Linked DNA regions of Homo sapiens: all the other regions are linked to region 3. Evidence: fine-mapped expression QTL. A gene starts in region 3. Each other region holds a variant in brackets. All regions are shown on one strand. Distances are from middle to middle. Region 1 overlaps BTLA (B and T lymphocyte associated). Region 2 has its middle 77 kb from the start of BTLA. Region 3 holds the start of CD200 (CD200 molecule).

Region 1 (10,692 bases), 160 kb before region 3:
TTTTATTTTTTTGAGACAAGAGTTTTGCTCTCGTCACCCAGGCTGGAGTGCAATGGCGTGATCCCGCCTCACTGCATCCTCTGCCTCCCGGGTTCAATCGATTCTTCTTCCTCCCGGGTTCAATTTATTCTCCTGCCTCAGCGTCCCTAGTAGCTGGGATTACAGGCACCTTCCACCACGCACAGCTAATTTTTGTATTTTTAGTAGAGATGTTGGATAACCCCAATTATCCAACATCTGTCCTACCCAACTGAGCACTGCAACACTCTACTGCACTCAGTTTGGGAAGAACGAGCTATCTATTCATCATCAGTGTGGCAGCCTGAGCATTTTCGCAAGAAGTAGTGATAGATTTGTACTTAACTATTTATAACATCTACTCAGTTCTCTTTTCTTGCCATCAACCTGTTTTTTAAGAAAGTCAGCCAAGCTATGGATGCAATGCATGTTGGGCAGGCTGGTCTGGAGCTCCTGACCTCAAGTGATCCACCTGCCTCAGCCTCCCAAAGTGCTAGGATTACAGGTATGAGCCACCATGCCCAGTGATTTTTCAGGTTTTAAATATTCTGTCTTATTATTCCCTACAAGCACACATTTATCAGTTTGGCTACTGCAATTTTAAATTAGAAAATCTGGCCACTGAGGTTCTATGGAAAGTCTATCTATAATTTTAAACTGTGTAGTTTGGAATATGTCTCTATGATGCCAGGATGCCACACAACCAAGTGCAAAGTAAAAAAGTCCTTAGTTACTCAAACATCTTTATGTTTGTAAGTATCTAGTATTAAGTCAACTAGGTGCTTAGATGGTTGACTGAATTTTCCACCTTCCATCAGATGCCTACAGTCACATAGCTACAACTGGAGTCAAATATTATTAAATAGATTTCTTCCCCATTTGAAGGATACATAAACTACTCTCTATGAAATTAAGAACAATGAGTTTCAGTGCTAAACCACATTGATGGTGGGGTAAGACCTTTATTTCTCCCAATGTGCAACCTAGCATTTGCAAAAGTGAACTTGGCTGTTAGAACTGGGTTAATTTACTGGCTCTGCCACTTACTGTATGGCATTGATTAAGTCTCTTCTCTTCTCTTTAGTTTCCTCATTTGTACAATACAGGTAATAATTGTACCTAAATTATGGGGCTGCTGTGAAGACTGTAGATGCAATAATATGGGTAAAGTGCCTCGCATAGTAAGTGCACGTATTTAAAGCTCAGTAAATGTTAGTGGTATTTTTCCTAAATTATTTTCACCATGCAACCTCTATGTAATTAAATGAGAATTATGTTTTAACATTATTATTTAAAATAGTTGAGTTTTTAAAGTTAAAAATAAAATAAATAAGTACAATATATTTTGCAATATATTTAGCCCAAAATATAGTGAATCAAATTATTCAGAAAATGAAATATGGCTGGGAGCCATGGCCCTAGCCTTTAGTCTCAGCACTTTGGGAAGCCAAGACGGGCAGATCACCTGAGGTCAGGAGTTTAAGACCAGACTGGTCAACATGGTGAAACCCCGTCTCTACTAAAAATATAAAAATTTGCTGGGTGTGTTGGGAGGTGCCTGTAGTCCCAGCTACTCGGGAGGCCGAGACAGGAGAATAGCTTGAACCCAGGAGGCAGAGGTTGCAGTGAGCTGAGATCACACCACTGCACTCAAAAAAAAAAGGGAAAGACTTGAGTGAAGTACTGGTCAGATATATACCAGTTGATATAATGGATTGCAGCAGCAGTTGCATTAAATTAAAGCTATAGGTTAAGAGAAGGAACATTTGGTGAAATTTGTTCTCCCAGGCAGAGCTGATGGCTCCATTTCTTAAAACCACATTAAATACCTTATATCTTGGGGATTTCCTGTGATTTACTTAATTGCTGAGTTCTTTACAGTAATACATTTTCAGTGTTTAAAGATAGCCTTTGAAGATTTTTTCCCCCTACTTCAAAGCAATGTGAGATCCGTGTCCTTGTTCCTAGGAGTGAGGCTGCATATATAATAAGGCTGGAAAAAATGTAATGTTCTCTACAAACTTCCTGTTTAAGGTCCTTCTTTATTACAAAAGTATGCTTGCTTACTTTTTGTGTTTCTCTAAAAAATTAGAGAAACTTGCCCCTCAGTGTGTGGCATACAGTTTCTGTCCTGATAGAAGTAATAAAAATGTCAATATCTTCCCTTCATGGGCAGATCATGCTGGCAAGATCTAGACTGCAAGTGGAAGTGTCTCTGTCCATTGCCTGCCCTGTCATCCTGGACCATTTGTCTGAGGCTGCCCTAGACCCTAGTTCAGTTGAGGATCAACCAAGGATTCCACTTTTAGGCAGGCAGGAACACTGCAGTTAATGTCTGGGTATCACCAACACCATATATGATGCAGAATAAAGGCAGTTGGAACTGTTTGATTGATTACTGGTTATTGTGATTTTTAAAAAAAGCAATCCTAGTCTGGTTCAGTAAGGGAAAGACACCTGTATTCTGGCTCTTTTGAGAATACAGTGGTTAGGGCTATGTCTCCATTTTGGTCTGGCTTGTGTCATTTTTTTCCCTTTATTATGATGGTCCAGTATGGTCCATGGACCAGCTTTTAAACACCGTGTTCCACATCCCACACAGATTGTTTTGCTCTACTACAAACTGGCCATATCTTTGGGTCAAAAAATATCATTCCTTGAAGTTCAGGTTTTGTAGCACAGTATCTTTATAAGGCATATTTCTATGGCTTCAGCTATTTGTTCTTATTGAAATGTGCATATGGAGGAATGCTAGAGATAGAGCTCTGTCTTCTGCCAAGTGCCTATGTATTGTTACAACAATGCCTGCCATATATTAAATAAATGTTTAGGAATGCATTCTGTGGTTACAGGACTTCTTGAATTAAAGCATGAAAAGATTAACCTTGTGCTCATTGCAGCCTTGAATATACTTTTCCTATCACAGAGAAGTTTTTAAATTTCTTGCTTCCTCTGTCCTACTACCAAAGTTTCCTCTATTGTAAAGTTGACGTCAAAACTATTTATCTTGCCTCATTGGGACTTTCCTACTTAATTTCCATTATTTGTGAGTTTCATCTTTATGTAGAGTTCAGAATTGTTAAAAGAAAAATATTTACAGGCATTTGTAATCAGGTCCAAAAAATAATCATTTTCTTTTTTCCTTGGAGAAGCTGTGTGGTATAGTGGCTAAGATCAGGGACTCTAAAGCCAGACTCCATGGATTAGTATCCTATGTCTGCCATTTAATGGTTTTGTGACTATAAAATCTCTGGTTCTCAGTTTTCTCATCTAAAAAAATGGGAGAATAATCTTATAAGGTTGTTGTGACTATTAAGTGAATTAATTCTGTAAAACACTTAGAATAGTGCATGGCATGCCATTCAGTGCTGTGTATATTTAGCTAATTTTTTTTCTTTTAGTCCAACATTTCATTAGTTTAATAGTCCTGTTAAAGTAACATTGGGTGACAATTGGGAATCAACCACAAATAAAAATTTGGAGTTCACAAAAGTCTTCTATAAATTACTCTTGATATTATTATCTACTCTTTTTTTTCTTTATTTCTTCTAAAAAAGGAAAACAGGATACATGTGCAGAAATGTACAGGTTTGTTACATAGGTATACGTGTGCCATGATGGTTTGCTTAACCTATTGACCCATCCTCTAAGTTCCCTCTCCTCTCCCCCTACTCCCCAACAGGCTCTGGTTTGTGTTATTCCCCTCTCTGTGTCCATATATTCTCATTTTCAACTTCCACTTATGAGTGAGAACATGCAGTGTTTGGTTTTCTGTTCCTGTGTTAGTTTGCTTAGGATGATGGCTTCCAGCTTCATCCATGTCCCTGCAAAGGGCATGATCTCATTCTTTTTTATGGCTGCATAGTATTCCACGGTGTATATGTACCATATTTTCTTTTTCCAGTCTATCATTGATGGGCATTTGGGTTGGTTCCGTGTCTTTGCTATTGTAAATAGTGCTGCAATAAACATACGTGTGCATGTGTCTTTATAGTAGAATGATTTATATTCCTTTGAGTATATACCCAGTAACGGGATTGCTGGGTCAAATGGTATTTCTGGTTCTAGATCGAGGAATTGCCATACTGTCTTCCACAATGGTTGAACTAATTTACACTCCCACCAACCGTGTAAAAGCATTCCTAATTCTCCACAGACTTGCCAGCACCTATTGTTTCCTGACTTTTTAATAATCACCATTCTGACTGGCGTGAGATGTTATCTCCTTGTGGTTTTGATTTACATTTCTCTGACCATCAGTGATGTTGAGCTTTTATTCTTATGTTTGTTGGTGGCATAAATGTCTTCTTTTTTTTTTTGAGATAGAGTGTCGCTCTGTC[G/A]CCCAGGCTGGAGTGCAGTGGCGCAATCTCCGCTCACTGCAAGCTCTGCCTCCCGGGCTCATGCCATTCTCCTAACTCAGCCTCCCGAGTAGCTGGGACTACAGGCGGCTGCCACCACGCCTGGCTAATTTTTTGTATTTTTAGTACAGAAGGTTTCACCGTGTTAGTCAGGATGGTCTTGATCTCCTGACCTCATGATCCACCTGTCTCGGCCTCCCAAAGTGCTGGGATTACAGGCGTGAGCCACCGCGCCCAGCCAGTGTCTTCTTTTGAGAAGTGTCTGTTTAGGCTGGGTGTAGTGGCTCTCGCCTGTAATCCCAGCACTTCAGGAAGCTGAGGAGGGCGGGTCATTTGAGGTCAGGAGTTCAAGAGCAGTCTGGCCAGCATAGTGAAACCCTGTCTGTACTAAAAATACAAAAATTAGCTGGGCGTGGTGGGACACGCCTGTAAGACCAGCTACTTGGGAGGCTGAGGCAGAATTGCTTGAACCCAGGAGACTGAAGTTGCAGTGAGCCAGGTTGCACCACTGCACTCCAGCTGGGTAACAGAGTGAGACTCTGTCTCCAAAAAAAAACAGAGAGAACTGTGTGTTCATATCCTTTGCCCACTTTTTGATGCGGTTGTTTGTTTTTTTCTTGTAAACTTATTTAAGTTTCTTGTAAATTCTGGATATTAGGCCTTTTTCAGATGGGTAGATTGCAAAAATTTTCTCCCATTCTGTAGGTTGCCTTTTTGCTCTGATGAGAGTTTCTTTTGCTGTGCAGAAGTTCTTCAGTTTGTTGCAATTGCTTTTGGCATTTATGTCATGAAGACTTTGTGAGAAAAATGCCAAAAGCATTATCTACTCTTATCCTTGGTCACCAAGAAAAGCTAATAGTGCTTGAGAATCATGCGCTTGAGTTGTATTGTGTCAGTGAATTGTATCATATGCGATTTGCTTCACTTTTCTAATACTCTCCATTCTCTTACCTCAAAATAAGCTCAATATTTTGTACCTTTCTGGTATACTCTCATGGTTATGGACCTGATTTACATGTTTATCTCAATGGAAGAAGTGGCTTGTGTGCAGCATGTGTCTGTGTGTATGCATGCAGAGGTGTCATACAATTTGAGATTCACTTAGAACAGAGTCCAGAAGAGTGTTAGATCAGTCCCAGGAAAACATCAAGTTTAGCTGGCAGAGCTCTTTAATTTCTTTTTTCTGCCTTCTTGATAACCATGTTCATCTTATAAGCACAACCTGGAACTCACACACATCACAAATGGCCTATTATCCAGTATTTGGCTACAAGGGAGGCTGGGGCATTGAGATTTTTATCTGGGGGGTTATGGCCCCACTTCATTTTCCTCTATAATATTAGAAGATGAGAATTAATATTGGAAGACATTTAGCAGATTCTGTCCACATAAGTATTGTTTAGTATCTTCAAGGGCTTTGAAAATGCCAGTGAATCTCAGTGTGATGTCTGTGGTAGAATGTATTAGAGATGTGAGGAAGTATCTGGGAAGAAAGTAGAGATGGACTTTCCCTTTCCAATCATAATACATAAGCCACACTTAATCTGAACATCACAAGTAACAATCCTTCCACTGAAGTCAATATTTAGAAATACTCATGTTGGTTTCTGATCAAATGCCAGAGGCACTCACTGATGCTACTGTCAACAGCTTCTCAGGTATGCTGTCTACATTTGCTGCCCTATGTTTCTTCCTGAAATCCCTGTGACAAAGGTGGAAAATTTAGCCTCTCTGAAGGACAGGGCCTATGTGTAACAGGCAATCAAAGTCTCTCTAAATCATTGTTCTTTAGGACTCATTAAGTTGACTAGAAGCTTTTACTATTCAAGGGCGATAATTACATGTTGACCAACTAAAACCACCAGAAACTCATCCTTGTTACACAGAGTAGACAGGGCTCTAAGGAGTGCAATGCATATGAATCCTCTGGCCTAGAGAAGCAAAGTCAGTGACCAGTAGGGTAGATCTGCAAGGGGACATTTGTGACTTGGCAGAGATGTAATGAAGAAGTCCTGAAAGCAAGCTTAGAAAATTATCAAAGGACAAAGTTTTTTTCAATATTCTAGTTTTGACCAAGGCAAGCCTTGCTGGTTAATATATTTCTGTAGAGTTTCCTCTCCCACATAAAAGAAGAGCATGCTTATATTGGATGTGCTGCCTTTCTTCTCTCTATTATATAGATATATTTTTGCCTGGTGTATATACTAGTTATTATGCACCACTGCTGATCCCTAGAATGGTTGTTGGGGGTAATTTTTCACAGCAGAGTCTTCTGTGTTTCCATCTTGTCTTTACCATTCATAGGCTTTACACCTCTGGACAATGACTCAACTTCTGTGTGATTTCCCTAAATTCATCCTATCAGAAAACATAATAATATCTGGTACTTTATGTTGTTGTTATGTGCCAAGCATAGTGCTAAGAATATTTCCTATATGTTCTCATTTGCTTTCACAACAACCCTACTGGATAAGAGCTTGTGCTTTGGAGTTAGCCACACCTGGGTTAAAGTCCTAGCCTTGACTCTTCCTCCTACCAGCTGGTGATCTTGGGCAAGTGGCTTATATTCTCTAATACCCAGTTTCCTCAACTTAAAAAAATAAAGGCCATAATAGTAATTCCCTCATAAAATCATTGTGAGGGTCAAATGAAACAATACATGTTTGGTATCTAAAAGTGCCTACCTCATAATAAGAACTTTGAAAATATTAGTCATATTCTTTTTTTCCTCGTGTTAAGATGGATCTAGGTTGGGTCTACAGTATATAGATAATGTGAGGTGGAGTGTACCTGTGGGCAAGTGGCAAAGAATGTGTAGCAGTGATTCTAGAGGTGATCTCCTAAATGTAACTTAAACTTTCCATTGGGCATCTGACCTCATGACCTCTAAGGTTCTCTTCTTGTTCTACTCTTAAATATCTCAAGGAGAGGAAATGACATGGGGACTTTGTAAGCTTTGCTAAATGTCGGAAAAAGCAATGACAAATACTAGAATGACTGATTTTAGACAAAACAAGTTCAGAATTATTTCAAACATGATAAAATCAAGAGATACAGAGCTTAAAGTCTTCAGTGGCTCAATACAACTGCATTGAAGAGATCAGTCTTCAAATTTACTTGCCAAATAGTCATACTACACTAACAATGAGAAATTCTAACTGTAGAAGAAATTGCTTTAAAGTGTGCTAATACCATATGAAAGTAAACTTAAAGAAAAATTTCATAAATGAATATAAGAAGATATGTTTTTATAAGAAGGGGATTTTTAAGAGGAAATAATAATAAAAGATGATTGTGAAAATGCTCTCAATTTTCTTGTTTCATGGTTGCTTTTTTTTTTTAAATAATGGGCATAAATGTAGATTTATGCCCTGTGTATTCTTGGCATTAATACTTTCCAGTTCCATTTTTGTGAAGGAAATTTTACATTGTGTGTGTGTGTGTGTGTGTGTGTGTGTGTGTGTGTTTACCCAGGGAGAAAATGGCTCTTCTTGTCTAAAGAGCAATATCAGGTGATATCCACAGAGAATAAGTTAAATCTACTATTGCATACTACATCCTTGTCTGTGATCTGTATTGTCTATGATCTGTATCTTTAGTGTTGTTTTTCAGGAAAGACATATGTAAATAAACTTTCATTTTACAGAAGGGACTGAGGGCCAGTCAGTTTTCACTGTACTCGTGAGAACAATCACAGGGTTTTCCTTAAAGTAACAATAGTCACTTTTACAAAAGAAGCTCTGATTTTAACATATGTTTGTGTGTGTCATACTTACTTAATTTTCTCCAGGTATTCCTAGTACTTCTGAGAATATCTGACTTATGGAGTGGTTTATTTACCACAGAGTTAAAGTAATACCTTTAATAGACATTACATAATACATTAAATGAATACTTTCTATATGAGGTGGAACTCCCCCACCCTAACCTCATGTCACCACATTTCTGATTTTGTGAGTGTATGTGAGCTAGTTTATGATGGGAAAGTATGCTACCTGGGTTTTCTGATGTCGTCCGTGTGATTTCCCAAGGTATGCAAGTCAATGTCCTCCCAAGATCCTTGAAGTATGGTTCCATGGCTGCTATTGCTGTGTGTGGATTTGCCCTGACTATGTACAAACCACTGCCTTATGGGATCCCTAAACTCTAATTTCAAGGGAAGATTTGAGAGACAGATTATTTCCCTTCCCTGGTGGCCATCATCTCTCCCCTCCTCTCTACCATTCCAGCCTTCTAAAGTAAGGCAGAACATACCATCTGGATGCCTTTTTGCTCCTGAGTGTAAAGACTTCATTCCTTCTGTAGCCTCCCCAGCATGCGTCTGAAGTTTTGGTTTGCTTGTTGTTTGTCTGTGATAGTATTTTCTGATAGAAGCTAAAATCCTGGTTGATGTCACAGAAAATTATTGGTTTATTATACCGTTAGTAATCATTTTAGTTTCTCAAAAAATCATTTGTTTAATTTCTATGTTAAACTCTGACACTTTCTTAGCTCAAGTTAAGGCAATCTGCATTCATTACAGTCATTCATTTATTTGAATGGTTGCAACCACTTTGAAGTTTCCATAAATTTGTAAGAATTTTTCAATGGAGACATAGTGAAACTCAGGTGAGATTTTCCTCATGATAATGGTTATAATCAAAACATATGGTATTTAAAAATAAGAAATAATGATATTTTATAAAATATTCATAATCATAACCCTCTTTTTTTTTAAATGGCTGATTGGTTTCAAAAATTACCTACTCTCTTCAGCTCAGCAACTACACTTGCTCAGCTGGGAGTTACGAGACTATACAGTTGTTTGTGGCTGGCACTCCTTTCTGATCAGCTGATCTGTGTAGCTGGATGGCCATGGAGTGTCACTTGTTAAATATTTTTAATATCCACCCCTGAGTGGACATAAATCAGGCCTTTTCAAACTGAATACTTGTAAAGTCTAGCTTTTCTTTGGTAGTTATAACTTAACCACTGTAAGGTATGTTGAGCTGCATATGTTCTTCACCTCAGTGCCTTTTAGCCCACCTCTCTAAGGGCTTAGCTGTCTCTGCTGTGCAACCAGTACTACATAGAAAGGTAACACACCATCAAGGAAGTAGCAGACTAGATAGAAGACAGAAACATGAACACATATGTAGTTATAAAGAGTGATGCATGTCGGCTGGGTGCGGTGGCTCATGCCTGTAATACTAGCACTTTGGGAGGCCAAGGCGGGTGGATCACAAGGTCAGGAGTTCAAGACCAGCCTGGCCAACATGGTGAATCCCCATCTCTACTAAAAATATAAAAATTCCCCGGGCGCAGTGGCAGGTGCCTGTATTCCCAGCTGCTCCAGAGGCTGAGGCAGCAGAATTGCTTGAACCCGGTGGGTGGAGGTTGCAGTGAGCTAAGATCGCGCCACTGCACTCCAGCCTGGGTGACAGAGCGAGACTCCGTCTCAACAACAACAACAAAAAAGGAGTGATGCATCTCACACAAAATAGCATCAGACATTTGCTAGGGAGTGGGGATATGAGGGTATGGTAAGTTTGCATAAACTTACTGGGCTAGGCCCAGTGCGGTGGCTCACGCCTGTAATCCCAGCACTTTGGGAGCCCGAGGCGGGCGGATCACGAGGTCAGGAGATCGAGACCATCCTGGTTAACCGGGTAAAACCCCGTCTCTACTAAAAATACAAAAAATTAGCCGGGCGTGGTGGTGGGCACCTATAGTCCCAGCTACTCAGGAGGCTGAGGCAGGAGAATGGCGTGAACCCGGGAGGCTTGCAGTGAGCGGAGATTGCGCCACTGCACTCCAGCCTGGGCGACAGAGCGAGACTCTGTCTCAAAAAAAAAAAAAAAAAGAAAAAAGAAAACGGAAACTGTGACAGTGATGTGGAGAATTGAGGTGGAGGGAGGGAAACAAGGCCAAGTTTGGAATGTAGAAGACCATTTGGTACGCTGTGACAATAATCCACATGAAACAGAATGAGATCCAAATTAAGGCAGTGTCATGGAAACAAATATGGAAGACATTTTCCATCCTGAATCAATTGAACTTCATGGCTGATGGAATGGGACGGTGACAAGGAAGGAGACTAAGATGGCTCCCCAGGTTCTGGCTAATGTGATTAGGTAGATGATGGTATTATACTGTGATAATGAGAGGAGGACCAAATTTGCCTGGGGGTTGGCTTGGAGGAAGAAAGAGATTTATCTTCCCCCATGAAGCCTTTCCTGATTGACCCAGCCAGAAAGACTGTCTTCCTCTTGAGGGATCTGAAAGCTCTGAGAGATTATATCATATCCAAAATAATACAACAAAAATCTAATGGCAA
Region 2 (10,692 bases), 90 kb before region 3:
ATTCTGTACATGGCCGTGCTGAGAATTTTCCAAATCTTTTCTTTCTGCTTCCCTTTTAATTATAAATTCCTTCTTTAAACTATTTTTCTTTTTTATTCATTTTACTGTAAGCAGCCAAAAGAAGTCATGTGGCACTTTGAATGCTTCAATGCTTAGATATTTCTTCTGTCAGGTACCGTAGTTCATTGTTCTGGGAGTCAGATGCGCTACCACTGGGCCACAAGATCACATAGTTCATTATCCTTAAGTTCTGTCTTCCACAAAGTCCTAAAACACGGACATAAATTCCACCAATTTCTTTGCAACTGTATAACAAGGAAGGTCTTTGCTCCATTTTCCAATACCTTGTTCCTTACTTTCATCTGAGATCTAATTGGAGTGGCTTTGCTGTCTACAGGTCTACCGACATTCTGATCATGTCCAATTATGTAATTCCTAAGAAGATTTCGGCTCTCCCTATAGTGCTCGTCTTCTTCTGAGCCCTCACCAGAGTTGCCCTTAACACTCCACTCACAGCAATCTAGGCTGTTTCTAGCCTGCTTCTCCAAATTATTTCAGCCTCTCCCTATTACCCAGTTCCAAAGCCACTTCCACATTTTCAGACTTTTTTTTGTAAAAACAGCCCCACTTTTCAGTACCAATTTCTTAGTCTGTTTCATGCTGCTCTAGCAGAATACTAAAGGCTAGGCAATTTACGATGAATAAAAATGTATTTCTCATAGTTCTGGAGGCTGACAAGTCTAAGACTGAGGGGCTAAAATCTTGTGACGGCTTTCTTAATGCATTATCACGTGGTGGAAGGTAGAAAGGCAAGAGAGCATTCATGAGAGAGTGGGAAGAGGGCAGAACTGATCCTTTTATCAAAAGCCCACTCCCATGATAACTAGCTCACTCAGCAATATTAATCCACCGCCGAGGGCAAAGCCCTCATGACCTAATCACTTTTTAAACGACCCATCTCTCAACAGTGTTGCATTAGGAATTAACTTTCCAACACTTGAATTTTGGGGCTCACATTTAAACCAAAGTAGTAACCTGAACTGTTCTAAACTAGAAGATCTGTCAGGGGACATAGGGTACCAAGTTAGCAGAATTGAAAATATATTTAAAAAAATTTGGCCGGGTGTGGTGGCTCACGCCTGTAATCCCAGCACTTTGGGAGGCCGAGGTGGGTGGATCATGAGGTCAGGAGATAGAGACCATCCTGGCTAACACCGTGAAACCCCATCTGTACTAAACAAAATACAAAAAATTAGCCGGGCGCCTGTAGTCCCAGCTACTCGGGAGGCTGAGGCAGGAGAATGGCGTGAATGCAGGAGGTGGAGGTGCGCTCCAGCCTAGGCAGCAGAGTGAGACTCTGTATCAAAAAAAAAAAAAAAAATTAAAATTAATGGATTATATATTTTGACTTAATGTAAAGAAATTTAGGAATTGCTGTTATTGACTCCATGGAAATTTTCTATGATTTATTTCTGAATTTGATTAATTATTATTTTTGTTTCCCTCACCTATAATTGCATTATTTCCTAACTCCATTCCTACCCTGACTTTGGAGTGCTTTACAAATCCTGGGGATCTTTAAGAAATTTGATGCCCTCTGCTAAGATTTGGATATAGTTTGTTTGTCCCCTTCAAGTCTCATGTTGAAATTTGATCCCCAACATTGGAGGTGGGGCCTGGTAGAAGGTGTTTGGATCATGGAGGTGGATCCCTTGTGAATGGCTTAGTGCCATTCTTGTGAAAGTGAGTGAGTTCTTATTCTTAGTTTCTGGAAAAACTGGCTGTTGAAAGGAGCCTGGCACCTCCTCCTCTTTCTTGCTTCCTCTCTCTCATATTATGCCTTCTCTACTTCTCCTTCTCCCCCAAAGAGAAGCTTTCAGAGGCCCTCACCAGGTGCAGATGCTGATACCATGCTTGATACTGATACCATGCTTCTTGTACAACCTGCAGAACTGTGAGCCAAGTAACCCTCTTTTCTTTATTAATCGCCCAGCCTCAGGTATTCCTTTATAGCAACACAAATGAACTAAGACACCGTCTTATTCTTATTACTAGGTAATCTCATTTTATTTTATTTTCTACCCATTTCTCTGGTATGCTAACATCCATGAGGGTATTGCATGGGCTTTCATTCATTTATTGTTTTTGGCATTCAGTAGTAGCATTCAGTGTTTCACTTCTGCAAAATTAGTGTCTCAATTTTTTTGATGATTTTTTTCTTTGATAAGTTCTTTCTGTCAATTTTTTTTTTTGAAATTTCTTGGTATCTCACTGGGTCTTCTAAATTAATTTTCTTTTTCTTTCATGTTTTGCTCAGTTTTAATCTCTTCTTTCTTCTATCCAGATATTTCTTAGGTTTTATCTTTCTTTTAATTCATTCTTCTTTTATTTTTATTTCTTTTTGTTTTTATCATACTTTTAATTTCCAACAGTTTTTTGTCTTTCTTCATGGCCTCCACTGTTTATTTTATATAAATGAAAACTCTTCAAGTTTCTTTACAGAAACTAACTAGAATTTTGTCTGTTCTTAAGTTTTCTTTCTTTTTTTTTAATCATTCTTTCTCCTAAGTTAAGTGATTAGAGGCTTTTCTTCTTTTTGTTTTTAGCTGTATCTTTCTTTCATGTTACCGTATTTCCTCAAATAGTTGGTAGTAATGCATGACACTTGGCTGCTCTGGAAAGGTAGGTGGGCTTATTAACTGATAGTCTTCACATTACAGAAATAAAAGGGAGCAGGCCAAGTATGTTTCAAGACCCCCAGTGCCCACATGTTGAGGTCTTTGCTCTGGAAAAATTGATGTCCGATCACTCTGCCTTAGGTAATCTCAGATAATTCATTCAATTTCTTTGTAAAAGAACACTTTGATTTTTTAAAATTTTAATTTTATTTTTATGTTTTTACATAGGATACAGTTATCTGACTGTCCATGTTTCTACATGTGGTTGGAAAAGTTGGGGAATGTAGTATGAGCTCAATTGTCCTGGATTCAGAGTTTCATTTAGACAACTTCAGAGTTTGAATTCTGGGCCTCTCCAGAGTTCTGCCTCAAAATTCATTGCATTCCTCTCTTCTAGAGCCATCTCTCTTCTAGGCCACGTTTTCTTCATCCTGTTACATCATTTACTCCTTTATTTACTTTTTATCTGTCATAACTTTTTAAAAACTTTCATTTTTTTTTAATGTGCTTGTCTTTTCTCCTTATTTGGTTGCATATTTATAATACTTTAAGCTATTTTATTATTTCAGTGGAAACTCAGGGATTATGAAAGATAAGCATGTATGGCAAGTCTTTCATCTTGAAATAGAAGCCTATTATTAAATTTTTCTAAAGCCAGAATATTTGGAAAATATTAGTACAACAGTTCATGAATACAAGATAAATCTATCAGTTATTTCAAAAGTTGGGCAAAGTGTTATGTTTTGAGGCATCTGGTTAACATAAAATATATTTTAAAATTTATTCATTTGTCATCAGATACAAATATTTCATTAAATATTGTAATATGCCAGCTCAGAGAAAGATTTTTTTATCCTGTTTGGCAAGTAGATTGCTTGGTTCACCTGTCAAACTGCGTCATCAGAGACTCCACTCTTTCTATTTATTTTCTTTGCTATACTTAGCTGTTCTGCAGGAAATTACCTTCATGTGATGACTGCCTTCAAGTACAGTTTCAAGAAAGCTATTCCAGACCAGAAATACCAGAAAGCCTCATGGACCAGATTAAAATGCTTGAATTACATGGTTTATTAAATCAACTTAAAAACACACAGCAAGAAACAAGTGGAAAGAGTTAAGTTAACATACTTAAGTTAGAAAAGTCCAAAAGAGAAGCTAAAAAAAGAAAGATTGCATTATTTTCAGACAATTTAATGCAACAGAAAATAATCCTAGGTATGATAATAGAGCCCTAGGATAACACTGTATTGTGGTTTAAGCAAATCACTAATATTCATAATAATGACCAGAAATGGAAATGAAAATATATGATTGTATTCTTTAGGTTTGCAAAAAGGCAAAACAGGTTTATAATTTATTTTAGGAAGAATTCCATTCAATACGCTTTTTAAAAATCTAGGTGACTAAAAGTTTGACTTTTTCATGAGTACAGACTAGGATTTATTTTTCAGCTCTGTCACTCACTGTGTGACACTGCATAATCTAAATCATATATCTGAGCTGTCATTTCTTCAACTAGGAAATGGTAAGGGTAATACATTTCTGAAATAGTTATCATGACAATTCAATAAATTTATTCATGTATGATGCTTAGGATAATATTAGTTGCTATTATTAATATTACTAAAAATGTTTTTCTTGAGTTTTCCTAAATTCATTGTGTGTATAATTTTAATGGTTACAAAATATTTTGTCATACAGTTTTAATTTAAACTACTAAATCAATCTCAATCAGATACTGGCAGGAGTTTTTGTTTTTCAGAAATGGATAACATTAATCTGAAATTTATATGAAAATGTAAAAGTTTAGAAATGGGCAAGGCAAGCCTGAGGAAGAAGAAGAAAAAAAACTAGAGGACTTGTACTAAACATAAAGATCTGTTAAAAACCATAGTTAATTATACTCTTATATATATTTAGTAGTTAAGACAGTGTGGCTCAAATATAGATTAAAATTACCAATGGTAGAGAATAGAGAGTTCAGAAGCAGATTCATCTGATTTATGAAAAATATGATATAGCGGTGCAGTGAGAAATGGATGGGACCATTGGATATTCACATGGAAAAAGCACATATCAACTTCTTCCTCACAAAAATAAATTTCAGAACAATTACATATCAATGTGAAAGATAAACAAATAAGGCTTTTAGAATCATCAATGCTATATATGTGAATTGTCAGGCCTCTGAGCCCAAGCCAAGCCATCGCATCCCCTGTGACTTGCACGTATATGCCCAGATGGCCTGAAGTAACTGAAGAATCACAAAAGAAGTGAATATGCCCTGCCCCACCTTAACTGATGACATTCCACCACAAAAGAAGTGTAAATGGCCGGTCCTTGCCTTAAGTGATGACATTACCTTGTGAAAGTCCTTTCCCTGGCTCATCCTGGCTCAAAAAGCACCCCCACTGAGCACCTTGCGACTCCCCACTCCTGCCCACCAGAGAACAAACCCTCTTTGACTGTAATTTTCCTTTACCTACCCAAATCCTATAAAACGGCCCCACCCCTATCTCCCTTCGCTGACTCTCTTTTCGGACTCAGCCCACCTGCACCCAGGTGAAATAAACAGCCATGTTGCTCACACAAAGCCTGTTTGGTGGTCTCTTCACACAGACGCGCATGAAATTTGGTGCCGTGACTCGGATCGGGGGACCTCCCTTGGGAGATCAATCCCCCGTCCTCCTGCTCTTTGCTCCGTGAGAAAGATCCACCTACGACCTCAGGTCCTGAGATCGACCAGCCCAAGAAACATCTCACCAATTTCAAATCCGGTAAGCGGCCTCTTTTTACTCTCTTCTCCAACTTCCCTCACTATCCCTCAACCTCTTTCTCCTTTCAATCTTGGCGCTACACTTCAATCTCTCCCTTCTCTTAATTTCAATTCCTTTCATTTTCTGGTAGAGACAAAAGAGACACGTTTTATCCGTGGACCCAAAACTCCGGCGCCGGTCACAGACTGGGAAGGCAGCCTTCCCTTGGTGTTTAATCATTGCAGGGATGCCTCTCTGATTATACAC[C/T]CACGTTTCAAGGGTGTCAGAACACGCAGGGACGCCTGCCTTGGTCCTTCACCCTTAACGGCAAGTCCCGCTTTTCTGGGGAAGGGGCACGTACCTCAACCCCTTCTCTCCTTGTCTCTACCCCTTCTCTGCTTTCCTGGGGCAGGGGCAAGTACCCCTCAACCCCTTCTCCTTCACCCTTAGCGGCAAGTCCTGCTTTCCTAGGGGGCAAGAACCCCCCAATCGCTTATTTCCGCACCCCAACCTCTTATCTCTGTGCTCCAATCCCTTATTTCTGCACCCCAACCTCTTATCTCTGTGCCCCAATCCCTTATTTCCACACCCCAACCTCATATCTCTGCGCCCCATCCCTTATTTCTGTGCCCTGACCTCTTATCTCTGTGCTCCAACCCCTTTTCCCACTTTTCTGGAAGGTAAGAACCCCCGAACCCCTTCCCTCCATTTCTCTACTCTCTTTTCTCTAGGCTTCCTTCCTTCACTATGGGCAAACTTCCACCCTCCATTCCTCCTTCTACTCCCTTGGCCTGTGTTCTCAAAAACTTAAAACCTCTTCAACTCATACCTGACCTAAAACCTAAATGCCTTATTTTCTTCTGCAATGCCACTTGACCCCAGTACAAACTCGACAGTAGTTCCAAATAGCCAGAAAATGGCACTTTGAATTTTTCCACCCTGCAAGATCTAAATAATTCTTGTCGTAAAATAGGCAAATGGTCTGAGGTGCCTGACGTCCAGGCATTCTTTTACACATCAGTCCCATCCTAGTCTCTGTGCCCAGTGCAACTCGTCCCAAATCTTCCTTCTTTCCCTCCCGCCTGTCCGCTCAGTACCAACCCCAAGTGTTGCTGAGTCTTTCTAATCTTCCTTTTCTACAGACCCATCTGACCTCTCCCTTCCTCCCCAGCCTGCTCCTCGCCAGGCTGAGCTAGGTCTCAATTCTTCCTCAGCCTCTGCTCCTCCACCCTATAATCTTTTTATCACCTCCCCTCCTCACACCTGGTCTGACTTACAGTTTCGTTCCGTGACTAGCCCTCCCCCACCTGCCCAGCAATTTACTCTTAAAAAGGTGGCTGGAGCCAAAGGCATAGTCAAGATTAATGCTCCTTTTTCTTTATCCCAAATCAGATAGCGTTTAGGCTCTTTTTCATCAAATATAAAAATCCAGCCCAGTTCATGACTTGTTTGGCAGCAACCCTGAGACACTTTACAGTCCTAGACCCTAAAAGGCAAAAGACCGTCTTATTCTCAAAATACATTTTATTACCCAATCTGCTCCTGACACTAAAACTCCAAAAATTAAATTCCGGCCCTCAAACCCCACAACAAGATTTAATTAACCTCGCCTTCAAGGCGTACAATAATAGAAAAAAGTTGCAATGTTCCTTGCCTCCACTGTGAGACAAACCCCAGCCACATCTCCAGCACACAAGAACTTCCAAACACCTGAACCGCAGTGGCCAGGCGTTCCTCCAGAACCTCCTCCCCCAGGAGCTTGCTACACGTGCCGGAAATCTGGCCACTGGGCCAAGGAATGCCCGCAGCCCAGGATTCCTCCTAAGCCGCGTCCCATCTGTGTGGGACCCCACTGAAAATCGGACTGTTCAACTCACCTGGCAGCCACTCCCAGAGGCCCTGGAACTCTGGCCCAAGGCTCTCTGACTGACTCCTTCCCAGATCTTCTCGGCTTAGTGGCTGAAGACTGACACTGCCCGATCGCCTCGTGAGCCCCCTAGACCATCACGGATGCCGAGCTTCGGGTAACTCTCACAGTGGAAGGTAAGCCCGTCCCCTTCTTAATCAATACGGAGGCTACTCACTCCCCATTACCTTCTTTTCAAGGGCCTGTTTCCCTTGCCTCCATAACTGTTGTGGGTATTGACGGCCAGGCTTCTAAACCTCTTAAAACTCCCCAACTCTGGTGCCAACTTAGACAATACTCTTTTAAGCACTCCTTTTTAGTTATCCCCACCTGCCCAGTTCCCTTATTAGGCTGAGACACTTTAACTAAATTATCTGCTTCCCTGACTATCCTGGACTACAGCTATATCTCATTGCCGCCCTTCTTCCCAATCCAAAGCCTCCTTTGCGTCCTCCTCTTCTATCCCCCCACCTTAACCCACAAGTATAAGATACCTCTACTCCCTCCTTGGCGACCAATCATGCACCCCTTACCATCTCATTAAAACCTAATCACCCTTACCCCACTCAACGCCAATATCCCATCCCGCAGCACGCTTTAAAAAGATTAAAGCCTGTTATCACTCGCCTGCTACAGTATGGCCTTTTAAAGCCTATAAACTCTCCTTACAATTCCCCCATTTTACCTGTCCTAAAACCAGACAACCCTTACAAGTTAGTTCAGGATCTGCGCCTTATCAACCAAATTGTTTTGCCTATCCACCCCATGCTGCCAAACCCATATACTCTCCTATCCTCAATACCTGCCTCTACAACCCATTATTCTGTTCTAGATCTCAAACATGCTTTCTTTACTATTCCTTTGCACCTTTAATCCCAGCCTCTCTTCGCTTTCACTTGGACTGACCCTGACACCCATCAAGCTCAGCAAATTACCTAGGCTGTACTGCCGCAAAGCTTCACAGACAGCCCCCATTACTTCAATCAAGCCCAAATTTCTTCCTCATCTGTTACCTATCTCGGCATAATTCTCATAAAAACATACGTGCTCTCCCTGCCAATCGTGTCCGACTGATCTCTCAAACCCCAGCACCTTCTACAAAACAACAACTCCTTTCCTTCCTAGGCATGGTTAGCGTGGTCAGAATTCTTACACAAGAGCCAGGACCACACTCTGTAGCCTTTCTGTCCAAACAACTTGACCTTACTGTTTTAGCCTAGCCCTCATGTCTGCGTGCAGCGGCTGCCGCTGCTTTAATACTTTTAGAGGCCCTCAAAATCACAAACTATGCTCAACTCACTCTCTACAGTTCTCATAACTTCCAAAATCTATTTTCTTCCTCATACCTGACACATATACTTTCTGCTTCCCGGCTCCTTCAGCTGTACTCACTCCTTGTTGAGTCTCCCACAATTACCGTTGTTCCTGGCCCAGACTTCAATCTGGCCTCCCACATTATTCCTGATACCACACCTGACCCCCATGACTATCTCTCTGATCCACCTGACATTCACCCCATTTCCCCATATTTCCTTCTTTCCTGTTCCTCACCCCGATCACGCTTGATTTATTGATGGTGGTTCCACCAGGCCTAATCGCCACACACCAGCAAAGGCAGGCTATGCTATAGTACAAGCCACTAGCCTGCCTCTCAGAACCTCTCATTTCCTTTCCATCGTGGAAATCTATCCTCAAGGAAATAATTTCTCAGTGTTCCATCTGCTGTTCTACTATTCCTCAGGGATTATTCAGGCCCCCTCCCTTCCTTACACATCAAGCTCGAGGATTTGCCCCCACCCAGGACTGGCAAATTAGCTTTATTCAACATGTCCCAAGTCAGGAAACTAAAATTTTAATCTCTCCCACTCTAGGTTCCCACGCCGCCCCTAATCCCGCTCGAAGCAGCCCTGAGAAACATCGCCCATTCTCTCTCCATATCACCCCCCAAAAATTTTTGCCACCCCAACACTTCAACACTATTTTGTTTTATTTTTCTTATTAATATAAGACGGCAGGAATGTCAGGCCTCTGAGCCCAAGCCAAGCCATCGCATCCCCTGTGACTTGCACGTATATGCCCAGATGGCCTGAAGTAACTGAAGAATCACAAAAGAAGTGAATATGCTCTGCCCCACCTTAACTGATGACCTTCCACCACAAAAGAAGTGTAAATGGCCGGTCCTTGCTTTAAGTGATGACATTACCTTGTGAAAGTCCTTTTCCTGGCTCATCCTGGCTCAAAAATCACCCCCACTGAGCACCTTGCAACCCCCACTCCTGCCTGCCAGAGAACAAACCCTCTTTGACTGTAATTTTCCTTTACCTACCCAAATCCTATAAAACGGCCCCACCCTTATCTCCCTTCGCTGACTCTCTTTTCGGACTCAGCCCGCCTGCACCCAGGTGAAATAAACAGCCACGTTGCTCACACAAAGCCTGTTTGGTGGTCTCTTCACACGGACGCGCATGAAATGAATAAGTTTGGTTTTTTTAATAGTAGAGTTTAATAGGAGTATTAAAAGAGTAGAATAACCCCAGACAAATGTTTTTTGAGAGATTAAAAGGTGTCAGGGATGGGAAGCCAGATACTCCTGGGTGACAAGTTCATGGAAATAATTAATGTGATTTTGTTACTGGGAAGAGCAGAGTCCTCTGTTCTTAGGCTTACTTGTAAGAAAGAATCCTACCAAGAGACCACTTAGCCCAAAAAGAGAATTTATTGAAGCAAAATTAGAGCACAGAGTTTATTTAGACAGACAGTACACTCCAAAAGATGAGGCACAGTGGGCTACTAACAGAGAATGAGCCAGCAGTAGCCTCAAGAGTTCTGCATTGGGTTTTTATGACGGATTTTTTCTTGAAGTTCTCATCTCTGTGTTAAGTCTCCACCTTTTTCCTTCATCTAGTTTTTCCTGCTGCTGCCTTAAGTCCTTGCCTTTTCCCTGCCTAGTTCCTGCCTCAGATTTGTGGGATTCTGTCTATTAGTTGGCGTGCATGTGTGGACCTTGTGTTGGACACAAATTCTACCTAATGGCTACATTGCTCATTACCATCACCCCAGGAAGGCTGTATGGCAGTTAAATCTGTACTTTTTATGCCTGCATATCTCTTAGGAATTTCTCCTTCACCCTCTTTCCCTCTTTATTAGCATGTAGCTAGCTACATTCCGACAGGTTAATTGCAGAGTGGGTGATTACTGGGTGTCTTAAGGGGGCGATTCTTCCCACATAAGTATTTCCCCATCTCTTTGCTTATATCCAGCCTACATGTTTTGGGTGGTCCCTGGGGTGTGAGATTTTCCATACTTCCCTTTTCCTCAGTGGCTCCCCTCCTCTTGCTGCTTATGTCTAGCT
Region 3 (9,128 bases):
TCACTTGTATTTATGTAAGGTCTTACTTTTATGAGCCTGATTACAGTCATCTTGCCATACAGATCCTCCTCTTCGGAAGCATTTTCTGCTTAGGTCTTTTGGAACTTTTAGTGCTCCAAGAAGATTCAAGCCTCTTCCTCCAGTGCCAAAGGGGTCCCATCTCCCTTTGTCTGCCATGCCACAGCTTCCAGATCTTGTCTGAACACACCCATCTGCTTTCCAGTTTGAGAGAAAATGACTACTTCCCAAATATACCCACCATATACCCCACACCTTGAGACACTGTTTCCAGCATGCTTACTACCTGTCAACACCCCTCACCCCCCGCCACTCCCCCAGCTATCAGTCTTTCATTCTCTCTTGTCAGTGAAAAAAATTATAGCACTAAAGCAGGCTTGACAGTTTTGAAACTACTCTTCTTTTTCAGACTGAGTTAAATTCCTGAGGTTGGGACATTGTCTGCTTGTTTCATTAGAAACAGTCTCTTATTTGGCTCTGTCTATTCTTTTATGGTATTTAGCAGTATGATCATAGTCTTCCATAAAGTAGTGGTCTCTTGGTGCCTGTCTCATTGCCCCCCAAGAACCTCAATATCCACTGAATCCTGTTGCTTTAGCGGGATGTCCTGACCACTTTTTCCTTAATGAACCCATCACGGGCATCCCTTTCTGAAGTTGTTTGTATGTTCTTATCGGCTCCTGTTTAGCCCCATCTGTTGCTACTATAATTTGAAGCTTATTTCTAGAATATTGGCCCATAATCACTTAAATGACCTTGCTTTAGGGTCAGGATCATTGCTAAAGGGTGGTGTTCTACCTGTGGGAATCCCATCCCCTCATTCTCGGTGTTTGCCTTAACTAAGCCCTATTTTTGCCATTCCTTTTAGATACAATGACTTCCCTGCTGGAATTCATTTTCCTTATCACTCCAAGCTGGGTCTTTCTGTTTGCCTTTCAATTTCTCTGGGATTTTTATTGTCTTGTGATGGCCTTCTTCCTGTGGGCTCAGGAGCAGCGGGTCGGGAATGGAGTTCTCAAGGATCTAAATCTCTCCTCCTTTACCTGCCACAAGGATTTCTCTTCCTTTTCCTGTCCAATGGGAGCCACTCAATTTTAATATCCTCCTACTCAATGGATTTGTTAATTTTAATTCCAGTCAATACATGCCCTTTTCTTTCCTTATGAAACAGCCACGACCTAAACTTAATGAGGGAAATTTCAAGAGGAAGTACCAAACCAATTCCAAATAACAGGTGTTTCACAAACATTAATCTTATATAATAAGCTTCATTTTTCCTCTAGCAAGAGAAGTTACTAACCAAGTCCCTTCATAGGTAGGGGTAGAAAATTACCTGGTAATCATTGATGGTGGTCTTTCCTAGGAGTGTAGCTGTAAGGAGAGGGCCCCCAATTGTCCTGGTCAGAGTCTGTGGTTTGAGATCAATGAGATGATAAAAATTAGAGCCAATATTGTCTCAGCTCTCTTGGGGCCAACTTGTACCCTGGAGGTGGTTGTGTGTGTTGAGCACCAGAGCTGTCATGGTCTGGGTGAAGACCCAAGATCATGTTAGAGACTGGCCTGCTGGAAAAGGGCTCTTCTTCAGCATTCACTCTAACTGCCAGAGACAAGGAGTCTCCATCACTATCTCCATCACAGTATTCCTGATGGATCTTTCAGGATAGATGTCCTGGAAGGAATGATGTCTCGCCGCCCTGTGGCCTATCCCAAGTGCTGCCACATACCTGAGTGTCTTCTTGTCTTCAGCTAGAGAGAACCAATCACTTAGACTCTCATCCTGGACCCCATGCAGTGGCATCATAGTACACAGTAATACTGATCTTTGTGATGTAAGTTGCTTTTTCCTTACATCTCTAAGGCTACAGAGAATTCAAGATTATATCATCTGAAGGTGCCATTAGGACAAATTATTCTTTGCAGATATATTTTATTATTCGATACCCAAGCATACCATAAGCATGCTATCCCTTCCTTGTGACTTCTCTTCCTGTCTTCATAGGTCTAAGACTAATAACATAGTCACTGCTCTTTGAGAAACCCAAGATGGTTCAGCTGCCTGAATACATACAGCCTACAAAGATCTGCTCACCCTGCCCATCCACTGCTGGGTATTATACTCACAAAGGCTTTGGTTTTGAAGTGAAAAAAAATATATAACTCGATAATTTTCTCAGTATTACTGAGACTGTTCCATCCTATCTAATTATCTAGGAAAGTCAGAAAAAATCAGGCCAAATATTTCCTCAGGCTCCATTGCCAGTGCCCACCCAACACATTTTGTTTTATTTTCAGCTAAGGCAATTGTGGAGACAGATACTGGCATTCCAATTCTATGTGATATTTTTTAAACCATTAGGCTTCTCTGACGTGGAAATCCAGGCTCTACCAGAGGCCATGATGAAGAATGCAGAATGGACAAGCTCTCATAGAGAAAATCTGTGTTTTAGGACAAGAGAGAAAGCAGATACATACCAAACCATATATTGTGGACTGGGAGCCAGCAATGTTAAGAAACAAAACACAGTGATTGAGGCAAAGGAAATCAGAAGGAAAGCCTTACTCTTAAATAGATACGTATTTTTATTTTACAGGTTTTTTTTTTCCTCGAGTCTGTGCAGAATAACTGAAAATACGACCAATCTGAAAACAACAGTATTTATATGTTTACAGGGAGGTGACCGGGGCTAAAACAAATACTAGATTTGTGAGCAAAAGAAATCATTTTACCTCTCTGAGACTCCGGAAAAGTAATAGTACCAATCTAATGGTTAAAAAGACTAAATGAAGTAGTATATAAAGCTCCTAGAATACTGCCAGTAGAAATAAGCACTAAATAAATGTTGCTCTTATCTCACATAGTTATTATGAGAATTAGGCAATTAAAGCACTTAGTATAGAGCCTAGGTTATAGTAAATGCCAATACGTGTTAGGTAGCTAAAAAAATTAATCGATCAAATCATATAGGGGGAACTACAGTCCTGAAAACAAAGAAGCCCACTTATAACCCTTGCCATGCAGTCCAGGGTTCACAAAAACCTGGGTCTTACCAGACAGCTGCCCACCTGGTAGCTATATTGCCCCTATTCATGCCTCTTCCTCAGCAAGTTTCTATGTCCAAATCCACATTACCCCACATGTAGTCACAAGGACTTGGAAATATCAGCCTTTCCGCCTGTTTATGTGTAAAACGAGGTAATAATTCATTTTTAGAAGGATAGTTACAAAGAAGATTAACAGCATCTAGCTTGCAGTAGACCGTAGCTCACAGACCACCATTCTCCTTTGTTAAGAAAGACAGTGAAATCATTGGCTATGTGGTCTTGCCAACAAACCATACATGAAAAAATTATCTTGAGGCATTCACTGTATTTGGATTCTTATACCAATACCATTGTATTTGGATTTCATATACCAATGGGATATATGAAAACCTTCTCCGTTTTTTGTCTTGTAAGCTGGTTCCGAATAAACAAAATGTCTGTTTCTCTAGATACCCGGGGTTAACCCTTCAAAGCATTATGATCACAGAGCATTTCAGCTCTCTCAAGTGTAGCTTCAGCTTTAACTGATCCTTCATGGCTTCCCCCAGGCAAGGGCTAGGAGGGAGAAAGGGGCTGCATAACAAAGAGGAGACGCAGGAGCTCTCCCGGAGAAAGCGAGCCTGGAAATCTGTATCTCCGCCGCAGCTTTTGGTGCCAATATGGAACCAATACAGCATTTCTCTTTCCCTTTTGGGGGCAGTTTAAAATAGGCTGTGCCTCCCCAGTTTTGGGAGCTGGAGCCAGTGAGCCGAGCCGAGCCTGCCCGGAGGATGCGCCAGCTTCGTCAGCGCGGATCAAGAGCCCCCGGAGCCCCGGCCTGGTGCATCTTTTTTTCAGGCAATTGGAATGGAGAATCTGGACGCCAGCAGCTGCCTGTAAACCACCCTTTGGAAGGCAAAATCCGTTTCTCAGCAAGAGAAAGCGCTTAGAGAAAAGCGCTGCCATCAACACCGCTGATCTAGTCCCCGGACCAGATTGTGGCAAGAGCCGAAGCTCCGCGCCTTCCACTCGCCGCCCGCCCCAGGGCCACCGGCTCAACATCGCCTGCCCTGCGCCCTCCTTCCCAAGCCCCGGCCCCGCTCACCAGCCTCTCCATCCTTGCTCCTGGAGGCGCGCGCGAGGTGGCTGACTGCGGATGTGCGCCTGGAGCTCTGCTAGGCAGGCGGGAGGAGCGTCACCTGTGCCCCTGCCGCACCTCCCGCCTCTTCCTCCTCGCTAGCCCCCTTCTCCCACTCCGTTTTCCCCACGCCCTCACAGGAGCGGAGGCTGTCTGTGTGGGGGGAATTAAATGATGTTTATATTCAGCTTTGTCTATTTTCAGACATTTTTCCCTTTTCAAAGGTGACCGCTGGGGAAACTGACAAAGTGTTTGGAAAAAAAAAATCATTTTTTTTTTTCCATTTTCCTGCTACCTGGACTGAGAAAGGAAATGAGGTGGGAGGTTGTGGAGATCAGTTGTTGACCTGTTAGCTCTTGATGTAGTGGCAAAGGATTCAAGCTGAATTTAACCAATGGACTTTTTTTTTTTTTTAAAGAAAAAACTTACATTTATTATTTTTAAATCCAGATTCAAATTATATATTTAAGCAATTCCGTAATGATTTCACCTTTCATGATGTGATCAATTCTTTGGTGAAGAGTTTCCTTCCACTTGCATTAATGATGAGGATTCTTTTTTCCCTTCTCCTTCTCCTTCTTCTCCTTCTTCTTCTTCTTGAGACGGAGTCTCGCTCTGTGGTCCAGGCTGGAGTGCAGTGGCGCTATCTTGGCTCACTACAAGCTCCGCCTCCCGGGTTCCCGCCATTCTCCTGCCTCAGCCTCCCGAGTAGCTGGGACTACAGACGCCCGCCACCATGCCCGGCTAATTTTTTGTATTTTTAGTAGAGACGGGGTTTCACCATGTTAGCCAGGATGGTCTCGGTCTCTTGACCTCGTGATCCGCCCGCCTCGGCCTCCCAAAATGCTGGGATTACAGGCGTGAGCCACTGCGCCCGGCCCTCCTCCTCCTCTTCCTCCTTCTCCGTCTCCTTCTCCTTCTCCTTCTCCTCCTTCTCCTTCTCCTCCTCCCCCTCCCCCTCCTCCTCCTCCTTCGTCTTCTTCTTCTTGTTCCAGAGTTCTTGGCTCTTAAAAAAAAAAAAAAAAGGACAAAGAAATCATCAAGTGTTCACCTCCTGAAGGCTTTTGTGTTTTACTACTACCACCCTCTCATAAGGAGCTGGGACAAAGCTTTGGGGTTTTGTTTTTGCTTCTTTTTACAGACAAAGTCTCGCTCTGTTGTCCAAGCTGGAATGCAGTGGTGCGATCATAACTCACTCCTGGGCTCAAGGGATCCTCTCACCTCAGCCTCTAGAGTAGCTAGAATGATAGTTGTGCAGCCACTATGTCCAGCTTTTTTTTTTTTTCCAGACACGGGGTCTTGTGTTGCCCAGGCTGGCCTGAAATTCCTAGCCTCAAATGCTCCTTCTACCTTTGCCTCCCAAAGCAGTGGGATTACAGGCATGAACCACTGCACCTGACCTATTCTCCCACTTCTTTTTTTGGGGGGGGGGCGGTGGGAGACGGGGGCGGAGTCTCGCTCTGTCGTCCAGGCTGGAGTGCAGTGGCGCGATCTCGGCTCACTGCAAGCTCTGCCTCCTGGGTTCACGCCATTCTCCTGCCTCAGCCTCCGAAGTAGCTGGGACTACAGGCGCCCGCCACCACGCCCGGCTAATTTTTTTTGTATTTTTAGTAGAGACGGGGTTTCACCGTTTAGCCAGGATGGTCTCGATCTCCTGACTTCATGATTCGCCCGTCTCAGCCTCCCAAAGTTGTGGGAATTACAGGCGTGAGCCACCGCGCCCGGCCCCTATTCTCCTACTTCTAACACCATAGACTAGGCTCACCTGATTTTGAATTTTATATGAATGGCATCGTAGCATATGTCTTCACTTGTTTCTGGGTTTTTTACTCAACAGTAGATTTTAAAAATCCATCCATGTTATTGCCTGTAGTGTGGCTTATTCATTCTCACTGATGTATAGTATCCTATTCTGTAAATACTGTCTATTACAATTTATTTATCTATTCTTCTATTAATTAACATTTCTTTGTTTTTCAAATTGGAAGCATTTTTCATAGTGGTGCTATAAACATTCTTATACCTGTCTTTTCACAAGCATATGTACATCATTCTATTACATTTATTTTTCCCATATATTTTCCTATCACTTTATTTTTAACCTTCCTCTATTAGAGAAATATTAACTGCACACTTGGAAAAAAAATTCTCCCACCTTGGCCTCCCAAACTACTGGGATTACAGTTGTGAGCCACTGCACCCGGCCTTAACCTATTTGTATGTTGTAATTACTGATATAATAGGACTTTTAATTTTTTTATATTTTATTTTAGTATATTTTCTTCTGTCTTATCTTTCATTAAGCTAAATATTATCTTGCTACATTAAGAGTTATATTTTATTATTCTGCTGTTTTCTCCTAACTTACTAAGGACAATGCATATATTTATTTTTTTAAGTCAATTTCTTAAATTTCCCAACACGTATACCTTAGCATAATTCTCCTCACCTCTCATAATCTTATTTTCTAATTTTTTAAAAATAAAATCTTACATTTATTATTTTAAAATCCAGATTCAAATTATATAGTTAAGCAACCAGTTTCATAATGATTGAGGCCAGGAGTTCAAGATCATACTGGGCAACATAGTGAGACCCCTGTCTCTACCAAAAAATAAAAATAAATTACCTGAACATGGTGGCACATGTCTGTAGTCCCAGCTAATCAGGAGGCTGAGATGGGAGGATTGCTTAAGCTCGGGAGGTTGAGGCTGAAGTGAGCCATGATGGAGACACTGCACTCTAGCCTGGGTGATGCAGTGAAACACTATTTCAAAAAAAAAAATAGCTTAAAAACAACATTTTTAGGTTAAAAGAGACTTGGGACACAGAAGAGTGAACAAAAGGGGAAAAACTCCCAGCCATAATGAAGCATAAACATTGTATTAAAAACCCTTTGAAAAAGAAGAAATTTGCTTACATAATTTTTTTTAAAGAAAGGTCTGCAGGAAAAAGAAAAAAATGACATTTAAAATTATTGGACAGATTTAAAGGAGCATTCAGAATTAATATATCACCTTAACTATATCAGATGTCAATATTGAGCAAAAGAAGCAAACAAGGAACTCAACAAAATGAGAAGAAAAAAAATAATAAAACTAAAGGCAGAAATCAATAAAAACGAACACAAATAGAATAAATATAATTTTTTTAGAGATTAATTGATCAAACGGGTGGCATGTAATACTCAGAAAATTATTTCTGTAATACTCAGAAAATTATTACTGTAATACAGAGTAACAATATAGAATGAAAAGGGAGAATTAATACTGATGCAACAAATAGCAAAAATAACAAAACAATATTGTGAACAGTAATATGAAAACTTACACAAAATGAATAAATTTCTGAAAGTGGCAAATTGGCCATAAAAATTTAAAAATTAAATAGGCCAATAAATTAGTAAGCAAGTAAATCAAAATCAAAGACTTGTTTTGCAAAATAAATAAATAAATAACAGACCTAGAGGATTGTTGAGGAATAGATCTATCTTATTCATGTTCAAAAGGGAGAATTATAAAATTACTAAGATCTTTCTTTGAGGCTAGTGTTATTTTAATTTTAAAGCCAGGAAAGGATAATCCAAGAAAATAAAATTATAGTCCTCTTTTACTTATAAATATAAAGCAGAACAATTTCCAAAATGGCTTAACATTAGAAAACTGTCAGTATAATTTATTATATTAGTAAATTGCTATGAAAAATTCATGATTATCTCAACAAGTACCAATAAATTTTTTCTTAAGTTCAACAACATATTTATCATAAAAGCAAAGGAGATAAGAATAAGAAAATATTTCCTAACCTTATGCTTAGTGATCAAACTGCAGTAAATGTCATATTCAACTGTAAGGAAATTTTAGACATGGTCTTTTAAATCGGAAACAAGAAAAAGATAACTGTTATTGCAGGTATTAAATATAAAAAGAGGTGTCGATTGGAAAGAAAGAAGCAAAACTGTCATTAGTTGTAAGAGAGAGAATCAACTTCATGAAAAACAATCAAAATCAACAGAAAAACTTAAATACAGAGTTTAGCACAGTTTCCAAATATTGGTTAACTTAAAAAATCCAAAAATGTTCCTAAACCACTAATAATAACCAGCTAGAAATTTTTTAAAATATCATTAATTATAGTGAATAAATTAAAAGTACCAAAGAATTAACCTAGCAAAAATTACACCTACATTGAGAAAATTGTAAAGCCTTCCTAAAAGACATTTAGAAAGACTTGAATAAATGGATAATATATTTATGGCTGAAGGAAATTCCACTATAAAGACATCAATGCCCCAAACTCAAACTTATTAACAACTTATAGTTTGACTTAACATTGTTAAATCCATCTACTTTTTATCCACAAAAAGTGGACTTTTGGTTTTCCATTAAATACTTCTGTTCCCCTAACAGTATAACTGAAAAATGTAATAGAGTGATGCCAAACAGGGAGAAGTAATCTATATCTAGTATGTAAAGGATCTAAGATATAAAAAATTTCTGGCTGGGTGCGGTGGCTCACCCCTGTAATTCCAGCACTTTGGGAGGCCGAGGCAGGAGGATCATTTGAGGTCAGGAGTTCGAAACCAGCTTAGCCAACATGGTGAAACCCTGTCTCTACTAAAAATACAAAAAGGGGCGCTGTGGCTCACGCCTGTAATCCCAGCACTTTGGGAGGCCAAAGCAGGTGGATCACCTGAGGTCAGGAGTTCAAGACCAGCCTCAAAATATGATGAAACCCCTTCTCTACTAAAAAATAACAAAAATTAGCTGGGCGTGGTGGTGGACACCTGCAATCCTAGTGACTTGGGAGGCTGAGGCAGGAGAATCACTTGAACCCAGGAGGCGGAGGTTGCAGTGAGCCGAGATCTCACCATTGCACTCCAGCCTGGGCAACAAGAGTGAAACTCCGTCTCAAAAAAAAAGAAAATACAAAAAATTAGCTGGGCATGGTG

What was found. PIP is the estimated chance that this variant, and not a neighbour inherited with it, causes the effect. A credible set is the group of variants that fine-mapping cannot tell apart.
Region 1: its variant is the best candidate, but not a certain one, in a credible set for the expression of CD200 in thyroid (GTEx, PIP 0.86).
Region 2: its variant is the best candidate, but not a certain one, in a credible set for the expression of CD200 in whole blood (TOPMed, PIP 0.59).

What each region holds. Positions count from the first base shown.
Region 1 is chr3:112,487,755-112,498,446 of GRCh38, reverse strand. All of the region lies in intron 1 of BTLA (B and T lymphocyte associated), which reads left to right. Among named protein-coding and RNA genes, the nearest start is that of BTLA, 6.4 kb to the left of the region's middle. RefSeq lists an enhancer at 392-511 and a silencer at 6,274-6,323. The variant G/A (reference allele first, on the strand shown) is at 4,359.
Region 2 is chr3:112,417,529-112,428,220 of GRCh38, reverse strand. No RefSeq gene overlaps it. Among named protein-coding and RNA genes, the nearest start is that of BTLA, 77 kb to the left of the region's middle. RefSeq lists enhancers at 4,617-5,469, 8,886-9,739, 9,740-10,593, 10,594-10,692. The variant C/T (reference allele first, on the strand shown) is at 5,702.
Region 3 is chr3:112,328,241-112,337,368 of GRCh38, reverse strand. CD200 (CD200 molecule) reads right to left here and starts at 4,213. Exons shown (of 6, transcript NM_005944.7): 1 at 4,145-4,213. The coding sequence starts at 4,156. LOC105374042 (a long non-coding RNA gene) reads right to left here. Exons shown (of 5, transcript NR_147411.1): 4 at 7,983-8,023; 5 at 4,615-5,183. RefSeq lists enhancers at 1,376-2,135, 2,632-3,588, 3,589-4,546.